3 linked regions of the Homo sapiens genome follow. The protein of the gene in region 3 purifies or fractionates together with the protein of the main gene of each other region. This does not show direct contact. Each region holds a gene or a part of one and is shown on either strand. Other genes may lie near its edges.

Region 1 (3,651 bases), on a different chromosome or scaffold from region 3:
GAAGAGGTGGTGAGGCCCCAGCGGCGGAAGAAGGAAGAGAGTGGAGCAGACCAGGAGTTGGCTAAAATGCTTCTGGCCATGAGGCTAGACCATTGTGGCACTGGGACAGCAGCTGGACAGGAGCAAGCCACAGGAGAGTGGCAGGTAAACTCACTTCCTTGGGTTGAAACAGGCCTGAGAGTGTTCTGACCGCTTGTTTTCCCCCACTTCTGATACAGTATATTCACTTCACCATTACAATTAGCTAAGTACCTGTATTACAGCCTACCCCTGGTATGAGATGGCTTTAGTGATTCCCAAGGATATAAATACGATGGTTCTTCAGAGGGCCTCTGGCAAGAAATGCCAACTTAGAAAGACAGGAAGCAGGTAGCCAAGTGCTTCTGTAGAACTTGTGGAAGAATGTAGCACATATGAGTCAGGTCAAACACGGTCTCAGTACTTAATGCCTTCAGGAGTGTTGTTTTCTCTATTTCAAATGAGTTTGTGAACATGTACTAAGATTTTAGAGGATTAAAGTAAGCAATGAAGCGAGACCTCCAGGCTGGATGGAATATTCCTCCTTCATTCAGCCTGGAATTTGACACTTCTCTTAAAGCCAGAATTGTATGAATGCCCAGGTGTCTTCATGTAGCCTTCCCTCTGCTCCTTTTGGTGGAGCCTAGTAGTCCTCACTGTTTACCATGCATAACTATGATGATCGAGGATTAGATATTCAAAATAAGAATTTGTAAACCTTACCAATGATTTGAGAACTTTCAAGGGCAACTTTGGATGCAGTTTTCATCTGAGTGCTGGCTTTGCACCTGATCTAGTTCAGTTCAGTATCACTATATGTGGTGAGCGGAGTCATGATCTCAATTCTTAGAAGCACAGATTCAGCATCTCTCCCAGGAGGCATCAGGAAAGGTTGATTTGTTTCATTTTGAAGCAGCGGGAAGATCTTTATTTAGTGACATCTGTCTGACTTGCGAGCCTTCTAAAGGCTCATAGCCTCAGACTCAGTGACGGCCAGAAGAGAGCACTTTCTCATAAACAGTGCTTTCCACCACTTGTTAAAGGTACTGTGTTGATACGATGGCAGTAGGACCGTTTTAGCAGGCACTGTGCCAAGTCCTGTGTGAAGCACCAGTTGCTAGGCACTGGTTGTACAGCATTCAACAAGAAAGTACCACCCCCATGACTTTCATGGCATGCATTTTAGGAACAAGAAACAGGCTATGGTCAAAGATGTTTAATGATAACTAGTGCTAGTACTAGTATAAATGCTTTCCACGTATTTACTCCTGACAAGCCAACAATCCTATAAAGAGATACCATTATTATTCCCATTTTATAGAAGGTGATACTGAGGGACACAGAGGTTAGGTCATTTACCTTACTAGGTCCCACAACCTAGTAAGAGGTAGAGTAGGGCTTTGAAGCCAGGCAAACTGGCTCCAGAGTCCTTGTTTAGCCACTCTACAGTGGAAGAGCTGTTGGGAGAATGTAAGACACTTGACATTAATCAGTGATGCCAGCCCTTTTTCTTACGTGCTGTGACCCCTGCCTTGGGCTTAAAACCAAGCCTGCCTCTGCTCAGACAGTACCCTGCCTGGTATTGATGTCTGCAGACCCAGCGCAACCAGAAAAAGAAAATGAAAAAAAGAGTGAAGGATGAGCTTCGCAAACTGAACACCATGACTGCAGCCGAGGCCAACGAGATCGAGGATGTTTGGCAGCTGGACCTCAGTTCTCGCTGGCAGCTTTATAGGTACTGTGTTCCACATCTAGCCAACCCATGTAGGGAGTTCCTCTTCTGTTCCTAGAACATTCTCCACCTCCAAGACCTTCAACGATGTTAACTAATTATTGATTGAGCACCACCACTGAGCTGAGTGATAGGGATACAGCCATGGGATAGAATAGACACTTTGCTCTACTTTCATGGAGCTTATAGAGTCTATCCAGGGTAACAAATTAATTATTACCTTCGTGGAGCCTATGGAGTCTATCCAGGGTAACAAATTAATCACGTAATTCCACAAATAAAAAGTTACAAATGGGTATAAAAACTCAGAAAAGAACAGAGAGGTAACAGGCACAATGACTCACACCTGTAATCTCACCACTTTGGGAGGCTGAGGCTAGAGGATCTCTTGAGGCCCAGGGTTCAAGACCAGCCTGGGCAACATAGTGAGACCTCATCTCTACAGGAAAAAAAAAAAAGAGTAGGAGAGGCCGGGCGCAGTAGCTCACGCCTTTAATGCTAGCACTTCGGGAGGCCGAGACAGGCGGATCACAAGGTCAGGAGATTGAGACCATCCTGGCTAACACAGTGAAACCCCGTCTCTACTAAAAACACAAAAAATTAGCTGGGCGTGGTGGCCGGTGCCTATAATCCCAGCTACTCGGGAGGCTGAGGCAGGAGAATCGCTTGAACCCGGAGGTGGAGGTTGTAGTGAGCCAAGATCACGCCATTGCACTCCAGCCTGGGTGACAGAGCAAGACTCCGTCTTTTAAAAAAAAAAAAAAAAAAGTAGTAGAAAGCCGTTGGAAAGTTTTACAGCGATTAGTGACATCATCAGTTTTACTAATAAAATAAATACTCTATGGAGAATTAGAGGAGGGGAGGGAAATTAGGCAGGGATGCTGCAGCTGGGAGAATTCTTCCCAAAGTTTTTAAAGTCTCTTATTTTCTTCCCATAGTTAACCTTTGTTCTTTATCTCACCCCTTTCCTTAGCTCCTGACTACTCTGCACATCTTTTTGTTGGGCATTTTGGATTCTTAGGTCCCTGAATGTATCTCTCTGTTTGTCACTATGCTCCAAGGGTCCAAGGTTCACTTCATACACTGGGCACACTGAAGGGCGTTCTTCCACCTTCTCAAAGAGCATGTGGCTTTCTTTCCTTGGTTCTTCCCATTCTCCAGGCTCTGGCTACAGTTGTACCAGGCTGACACCCGCCGGAAGATCCTCAGCTATGAACGCCAGTACCGCACATCAGCAGAAAGAATGGCCGAGCTGAGACTCCAGGAAGACCTGCACATTCTTAAAGATGCCCAGGTTGTAGGAATGACAACCACAGGTAAGAAACTGTGGAGAAATTTGCCTGTTGCATCTAAGTTCACTTCTGGTGCCAGATTATCTAAGGACAGGTAAAGAGGAGCTTCTTTGGTAGGTTAGAGGAAAATACCATGAAAAGCTACTGAAAGCACCCATATTTTGAGAACTCTTGGTGAAATTCACTCACTTTCGCCAGGCGCAGTGGCTCACGCCTATAATCCCAACACTTTGGGAGGCCAAGGCAGGTGGATCACCTGAGGTCATAAGTTTGCAATCAGCCTGGCCAACATGGTGAAATCTCATCTCTACTAAAAATACAAAAATTAGCTGGGTGTAGTGGTGGGTGCCTGTAATCCTGGCTACTCGGGAGGCTGGGGCACAAGAATCACTTGAACCTGGGAGGTGGAGGTTGCAGTCAGCTGAGATCGCACCACTGCACTCCAGCCTGGGTGACAGAGTGAGACTGTCTCAAAGAAAAAAAAAAAAAGAAAAAAGAAATTCACTCACTTTCTCCTGCTGGGTTTGAAACTCCAACAGTGACCAACACAGTTTTAATGTTCTGGAGACCACCCAGAACACTATAAGGACCAGCTGTCGCTGATGCAGG
Region 2 (3,651 bases), on a different chromosome or scaffold from region 3:
AGTGGCTGATGCCTATAATCCCAGCTGCTCGGGAAGCCGAGGCAGGAGGATTGCTTGAGCCTAGGAGTTCAAGACCAGCCTGCGCAACATAGCAAGATCCCGTCTCAAACAAACAACATTAAAAAAAAGAAAGAAAGAAAGAAAGAAAAAAAAATTATTCAGCTGGGTGTGATGGCTCACACTTGCAGTTCCAACTGCTTGGGAGGCTGAGGTGGGAGGATGGCTTGAGTCCAGAGTTTGAGACCAGTGTGGGCAACATAGCAAGACTCCATCTCAAAAACAACAACAAAAGAGTTACCTGGCCCAAAACAGTGCTAAAGCTGAGAAAACCTGTTCTATGTAGGAAGCACTCGAAAACAATTTGCTGGTAACATGCTGCATCTAGCACCTTTGGAGCTGCTCTAGATGTTAAAATCAGGTGTGTTGCAGAAGGTTGGGCTTGCCTTTGTCTTTCAGAGAAACTTTTAAGTACCTCAAGGCATTAAGAATTATAATTTCTAAGAGACTACTATTCTGCAAAGGCAATGTTAATCACAAATAAACACAATTTGGTTTTTTGGAAAATGACTGGAAAATATTTATCAAGTAACTTACAAATGTACATGCCTTCCTTCTGGGAACTGCTCCTACAAAAATGATTCCAAGATATTTACTACATTTTTCCGAATCATTTTATAAGGCCAGTATTACCTTGTTACCAAAATCAGACAAAGATATAGGAAGAAAAATATAGGTCAAGGCCGGGTGCAGTGGCTCACGCCTGTAAGCCCAGCACTTTGGGAGGCCAAGGCAGGCAGATCGCCTGAGGTCAGGAGTTCAAGACCAGCCTGGCCAACATAGAGTGAAACCTCATCTCTACCAAAATACAAAAAATTAGTTAGGCGTGGTGGTGCACACCTGTAGTCTCAGCTACTTGGGAAGCTGAGGCAGGAGAATCGCTTGAACCTGGGAGGCAGAGGTTGCAGTGAGCCGAGATCATGCCACTGCACTCCCGCCTGGGCAACAGAGCAAGACTCCATCTCTCAAAAAAAAAAAAAAAAGAAGGAAAAATATAGGTCAGTATGGGTTATGAATACAGAGACACAAAAATCCTTAACAAAATGCTAGCAAGCAAAATCCAGGAGCATATAAAAAGAATTATATACCAAGACCAAGCGCGATTTATCTCAGAAATATAAGGTTGGTTCAACATATGAAAATCAATCAATATACCATACTAATAGATGGGGAAAACCTCACATGATTTTCTCAATTGATACACAGAAAAAGCACTGGACAAAATGCAACATCCTCTCATGATTAAAAAAACATTCAACATACTAGAAACAGAAGGTAGTTTCCTCAACCTGATAAGGAGCATCTACAAAATACCCACACCTAACATCATACTTAGTGGCCAAAGACAAAGTTTTCCCTCTATGGTCAGGAATAAGACAAAGATGTTGGTTCTCAATACATCTGTTCAACATTGTAGTGGAAGTTTTAGACAGGCAATTAGGCAAGACAAAGAAAAGGCAACCAAACATGATCTTATATACAGAAAATCCTAAAGAATCCACCAAAAATCTACTGGACCTCACAAATGAATTCAGCAAGGTTGCAGGATACAAGATCAATATAGAAAAACCAGTTGTATTTCTATACACTGGTTCAGGCAATGAACAGCCTGAATATGAAAGAAAAGTTACATTTACAATGGCATCAAAAAGAATAAAGCACTCCTCTGGTCCTGCTCAGGCTCAGTTACAAAAAAAAAAAAAAAAAAGAGAAAAAGTACTTAGGAATATATTTAACAAAATTAATATATGGCGTGTACACAGAAAACTATAAAACACTGTTGAAAGAAATTACAGATTGAATGCAATCCCTATCAAAATTCCAAATGCCATTTTTTTAGCAATGGAAAAGCAGATCCTAAATTCATATTATGCAAGGGACCCAGAATACCCAAAATCATCTTGAAAAAGAACAAAGTTGGGATGACTCGCACCTCGCAATTTCAAAATTCATTACACAGCTACAGTAATCAAGACACTGTGTTACTGGCATATGGATAGAAATATAGATCAATGGAGTAGCATTGAGACCAGAAATAAACCCATATGCCTATCTATGGTCAACTGGTTTTCATCTAGGTGCCAAGACCATTCAATGAAAGAAAGAAGTGTCTTTTCAACTGCTGGGACATTTGAATATCAAACTGCAAAAGAATGAATTTGGATCCTTACTTCATACCATATGGGACAAAAATGAACCAAAATGGATCTCGATCTAAAACTATAAAACTCTTTGAAGGAAACAAAGGTATAAATCATCATGATCTTGATTAGGCAATGATTTCTCAAATATGACACCCAAAACTCACACACACTACATATATATATATACACACACACATACACACATAAATTGGGCTTCATCAAAATTGAAAACTTCCGTGCATCGAAAGACATTATTTAGGGCCGGACACAGTGGCTCACGCCTGTAATCCCAGCACTTTGGGAGGCTGGGACTGGCGGATCACTTGAGGACAGCAGTTCAAGCCCAGCCTGATAAACATGGCGAAGCCCCGTCTCTACTAAAAATACAAAAATCAGCTCGGTGTGGTGGCGGGCGCCTGTGGTCCCAGCTATTTGGGAGGCTGAGCCAGAACAATCGCTTGAACCCGGGAGGTGGAGGCTGCAGTGAGCCGAGATGGTGCCACTGCATTGCAGCCTGGGCGACAAGAGCGAAACTCCGTCTCAAAAACAAACAAAAAAAACTCCGTCTCAAAAAAAAAAAAGAAAAAGCTACACAAATAGCCAACTGGCACATGAAAAGATACCCAACATCATTAGTCCTTAGGTAGATGCAAATCAAAACCACAGTGAGATACCACTTTATTTATTTAATTTTATTTACTTATTCCCTCCTACCCCCCTTTTGGCTGAAGTGCAGTGGCGCGATCTCCGCTCCCGGCAACCTCCATCTCCCCGGCTCAAGCCGTCCTCCTGCCTCAACCTCGGAGTAGCCGGAATTACAGGCACGAGCCACAACACCAGGCTAATTTAAAAAATATTTTTGGCCTTCCGCCACGGCCGCCATGGAGAGCAGCAGCCATGGCTCTGCGCTACCTTATGGCCGTGGGCCTCAACAAGGGCCACAAGGTGACCAAGAACGTGAGCAAGCCCAGGCACAGCCGCCGCCGCGGGCGTCTGAGCAAACGCACCAAGTTTGTAGCGGGACATGATCCGGGAGGTGTGTGGCTTCGCTTCGTACGAGCTGCGCGCCATGGAGTCACTGAAGGTCTTCAAGGAGAAATGGGCCCTCAAGTTCATCAAGAAAAGGGTGGGGACGCACATCCGTGCCAAGAGGAAGCGGGAGGAGCTGAGCAAGGTACTGGCTGCCATGAGGAAAGCCGCTGCCAAGAAAGACTGAGCCCCCTCCCCTGCCCTCTTCCTGAAATAAAGAACAGCTTGACGGAAAAATAAAATAAAAATAAAAAATATTTTTGTAGAGACGGGGTCTCGCTTTGTTGCCGCCCAGGCTGGTCTCGAATTTCTGGCCTCCAGCGATCCTCCTGCCTTGGCGCAGCGTTGGGATGACAGGCGTGAGCCACCACGCGCGGCAGCAAATCTGAGATTTAACACAGAGAGCCAGTATGTGCCCAGC
Region 3 (3,651 bases):
GTAGCCTGATAGAGGAAAGTAATATCACCTGCTGGGGTGGGGTGGGAAAGACTCCCCTGGCTGAGTTTGGGGAGAAGGGGTCTCACTACAGTATTCTGGCAGTTTTTCCCCTAAGTGAAGGGAACTCTCACCTGGTTGGGTGGGCTCCCATTTCTAGTGGTGGGTCACCCTGACAGTTATACGGAGGGGGCCTCTCACCTGGATGACCGAGTGGCCTATGGGGCTATTCTCAGATAGTTCGGCCTCATAGGAGGGCCGCTCAAACTTGGGGGCGTTGTCATTGGTGTCAAGCACGGTGACACGCAGCAGGGCACTGCTGGCGCGTGGGGGGCTGCCGCCATCCTGCACCTTGATGGTGAGGTCATAGGAGTCCCAGCGCTCACGGTCCAGGTTGCCCATCACAATGAGCTGTGGTTGCTTCTCCTCCTGGTCCTCTGCCACCTGCAGCCCAAATAGCTCCTGGGCCTCAGGCCCAGCCTGCAGCTCATAGGATGCCACACCGTTGGGACCAGCATCACGGTCTGAAGCCAGCGGGATGGGGAAGAGTGAGCCGATGTTGGTGTTCTCAGGGATGGCCAGAGTGATGACTGGTGAGGCGAAGTTGGGTGTGTTGTCATTGATGTCTTGTACTTCTATCTGGCCCTCTAGCAGCCGGGGGCTGCCATTCTGCACGAGGTCTGTGATAGATACCTCAAACTCCAGGATGCAGGGATCACCAGGGAGCTGGTTCTGGCATTCACGGAGCCCCTCACGGTCGATGGAGGTCTCGGTGGTGAAAATGTCACCTGTCTTGCCATCCACGCGAAGGTACGGGGCACCCACCTCTAGCTTGTACAGGTGCCCCACATCTGGAAAACCATAGTCGGCTGCGAGGCTCCCAATGAGGGTGTTGGGTGGCTGTTCCTCCGGCACCTTGTACACTACCCGAGTGGCGTGGCCTGGGGATGGAGCCAGCAGGAGCAGCAGTGCTAGCAGCATGGAGGGCAGCAGTAGCCGTTGCCCCCCAGGGCCTGGGCTGTGCCTCAGGTGCTCCATCCTGGGAGGCCCCAGAATCAGGAGGGCTGCAAGGGGAAGAGGCAAAACAGAGGCCATGAGCTGGGAAGAAAAGCCTGGCCCTGAGCTGCCCAGAGCTGGCCCCATACTCACCCTCTCCCACTGACACACGATTCTCCACAAGAGCAGTCAGTCCCAGCACAGAACCCCGATTCCAGAAACTCAGATCCCTGAATCTCATCCACAGCTGGGTGTAGCAGCAGTGTCTGCCCCAGCTGGAGGAGCCAGTAAGAGGCCTGGCATGCCTAGAGCAGCTCCCGCCCATGGAACACCCTCACCCACCTGACGCTCCCTGGGCCCAAGCCCGGCTGCCCGCCCTCTTTCCTTCTTTTCCTCCTTGCTCTCTGCTCTGTGCTTCACCCAACACCTCCTTCTCACGAGCATCCTGCCTTAGTCACCGATGGTAATTACCTTGATACTGAGATAGGGAGAGAGAGCCAGTGGAAGGGTGAGACCTCGAGCATCCCCAACTGGAGCACCCCTCCCCACATGCATGGTAGGAAAGAGACACAAGTACGTCCTTACACACCCCAGACCCTGGGACCTTGACTTGTCACACTGGGCTCCATTAAGGTTGGCTGGAGGGAGAGGGGATGATGTCTCATTTCTCTTTGTTCTGAGATGCCAAGTCAGTGCATATGCATGAGGTATGACATCTCAAATCCTCTTTTTCTGACAATCACCCACGGTGCCCAGTATTCTCCACCCCCATAAAAGGCCAGCTTGAATTGGGCAAGGCTTGTGAAAATGGTTAGGGTTGAGGAGTAGGTGTTAGCCTTCCCGACTTTCCCCCAACACATATGCCCCAGAACGTGCACACAGGCCACAGAGCGTGCACACATGCCCCAGAGCATGCACACATGCCCCAGAGCATGCACACAGGAACATGCACAGTTGCTAGGGCTCCTCTCCTCTCCCTCCTGCTGCCATGGGCAGGTGCGTACAAGGGAACACAGGTCAAGATTGGGGTCAGAACTGTGGTCAGGGCTGACTAGCCCTGGAATTGGCATTGGGAGCTGCCCTGGCCTGTCCTTAGCAACAGGGAGCCCAGCAGGTCTAACTGGGACAGAGCTGCCGATGATAATGACACCAGCAGCCTTTCCCTGGCCACTCCCCCACCCCACACCCTCTGGTCTCTGGATGAACATCTGGCTCTTATTTGACATCCATCTCCGTATATCCAGCCCCTACTTCACACTTGCCTCTCCCAACCTCTGCCCTAGTCAACCACAAGCTGTACCCCATCACAACAATAACCCCCTTCTTCTGCCCATCTCCCCTGGCTTTGAGGTCGTGCATTTGCAGATCCCAGCTAGACCCAGCTACTGTCTCTGTCTTGAATGCCCCCTCCTCTCCAACAAAATCATGGCCAGTCCCTCCTTTATTCAAATCCAAAATCTTTGGATCAGCAGTTTCTTTGGAGGCTTCTGGTTCAGTCTCCTTTCCCCACTTCCTCACTTTTACCTGGAATACCTTCCCCACACCTGGAACACCCACCCCACATCAATCCCACTGAGGGCAGGCTCTGGCCCTCCAGGAAACCTTCACAGTCCTCTCCTGCCCACGGTGACCTCTCCTTCCTCCAACTCACAGCCACTTATTGTCTGCTCCAATCCCAAGGCAATGAATCATGGGGCTGACTGGGACACCGCCCGCCTGTGTTGTTCAGCTTCAGTATTGTGCACCTATTCCTGAGTTCTCTGCCTTTCCAGGCAAACACAAAGCACTACGAAGGAAGGGACAGTACTCTGTACACTCACTCATCCCCTGCCCCCTAACAATGCACCTTTGCACATCTGGGTACACTGTAGGGACTCAGTCATGCATTCAACAAATGTTTATTGGGCATTTACAATATGCCAGGCTCTGTCCTGGGCACTGGGATGCAGAAGTAAACAAGACTGGTCCAATCTGCCATGACAGTGCTTCTAACTCAATGACTATTTGTCCATTTTGTTTGGTTGCTTCTGTATACCATTTGGCGAATGTAAGGCAGCAGGGTGGAGAAGAGCGAGGGTTGTGGCATTAGACAGTCTGAGGCAAACCCAGCTGCTCACTTCCTGGCTGCATGACCTGAAGCAAAGATTTAGTGCCTCAGTTTCCTTACCTGTAAAATGGGGATAATACTACCTATTTCCTAGGGTGTTTGAGATACTGTGGGCTAAATGTGGGTACTCAACAAAGGACTCCTTCAAAGCATTTAGCACAATTGTAGTTGTGTACCTGTTTGGAAAATGTGTTAATTGTCTGTCTTTGCTCCAAGATGGTGAGCAGAAAGCAGGAGAGTTTCTACTTTGTTTGCTCCTACCTCCTCAGGGCTTAGCCCTGGACCTGGCACACAGTGGGCACTTGGCAGCTCTTGAATGACTGTTGTTATTTTGCTCTCTAGGCTTAGCCTTTCCTGGTACTTGCTGTGTGACCACTGCTCTTTTACTTGCTCACTTACCCGATTCCCCTACACCACTAAGAACTTCCTGGGGTAAAATGTAAGTCTTCTCTGTTTAGGGCACATAGTAGACTCTCAGCAAATGTTCACTGAATGCACAGAGTCTTTAGATAAATCAAACACATCCCCTCCTCTGTATGGCCTTCCCCAAG

The links.
Region 1: the proteins of PCDH1 (region 3) and ZNFX1 purify together in Homo sapiens (affinity purification with mass spectrometry; one large-scale study listed by BioGRID and IntAct). This does not show direct contact.
Region 2: the proteins of PCDH1 (region 3) and DCAF4 purify together in Homo sapiens (co-immunoprecipitation; one large-scale study listed by IntAct). This does not show direct contact.

Annotation. Positions count from the first base shown.
Region 1 is NC_000020.11:49,253,910-49,257,560, reverse strand, and holds part of ZNFX1 (NFX1-type zinc finger-containing protein 1), read left to right. Parts: coding exon 1-144; intron 145-1,613; coding exon 1,614-1,753; intron 1,754-2,911; coding exon 2,912-3,066; intron 3,067-3,651.
Region 2 is NC_000014.9:72,929,378-72,933,028, reverse strand, and holds part of DCAF4 (DDB1- and CUL4-associated factor 4), read right to left. Parts: intron 3,465-3,651; exon of another isoform or gene 3,273-3,464; coding exon of another isoform or gene 3,209-3,272; exon of another isoform or gene 3,065-3,208; intron 1-3,064. UniProt on the Homo sapiens protein: May function as a substrate receptor for CUL4-DDB1 E3 ubiquitin-protein ligase complex.
Region 3 is NC_000005.10:141,868,371-141,872,021, forward strand, and holds part of PCDH1 (protocadherin-1 isoform 2 precursor), read right to left. Parts: intron 1,258-3,651; exon of another isoform or gene 1,235-1,257; coding exon of another isoform or gene 1,147-1,234; intron 1,062-1,146; coding exon 199-1,061; intron 109-198; exon of another isoform or gene 1-108. UniProt on the Homo sapiens protein: May be involved in cell-cell interaction processes and in cell adhesion.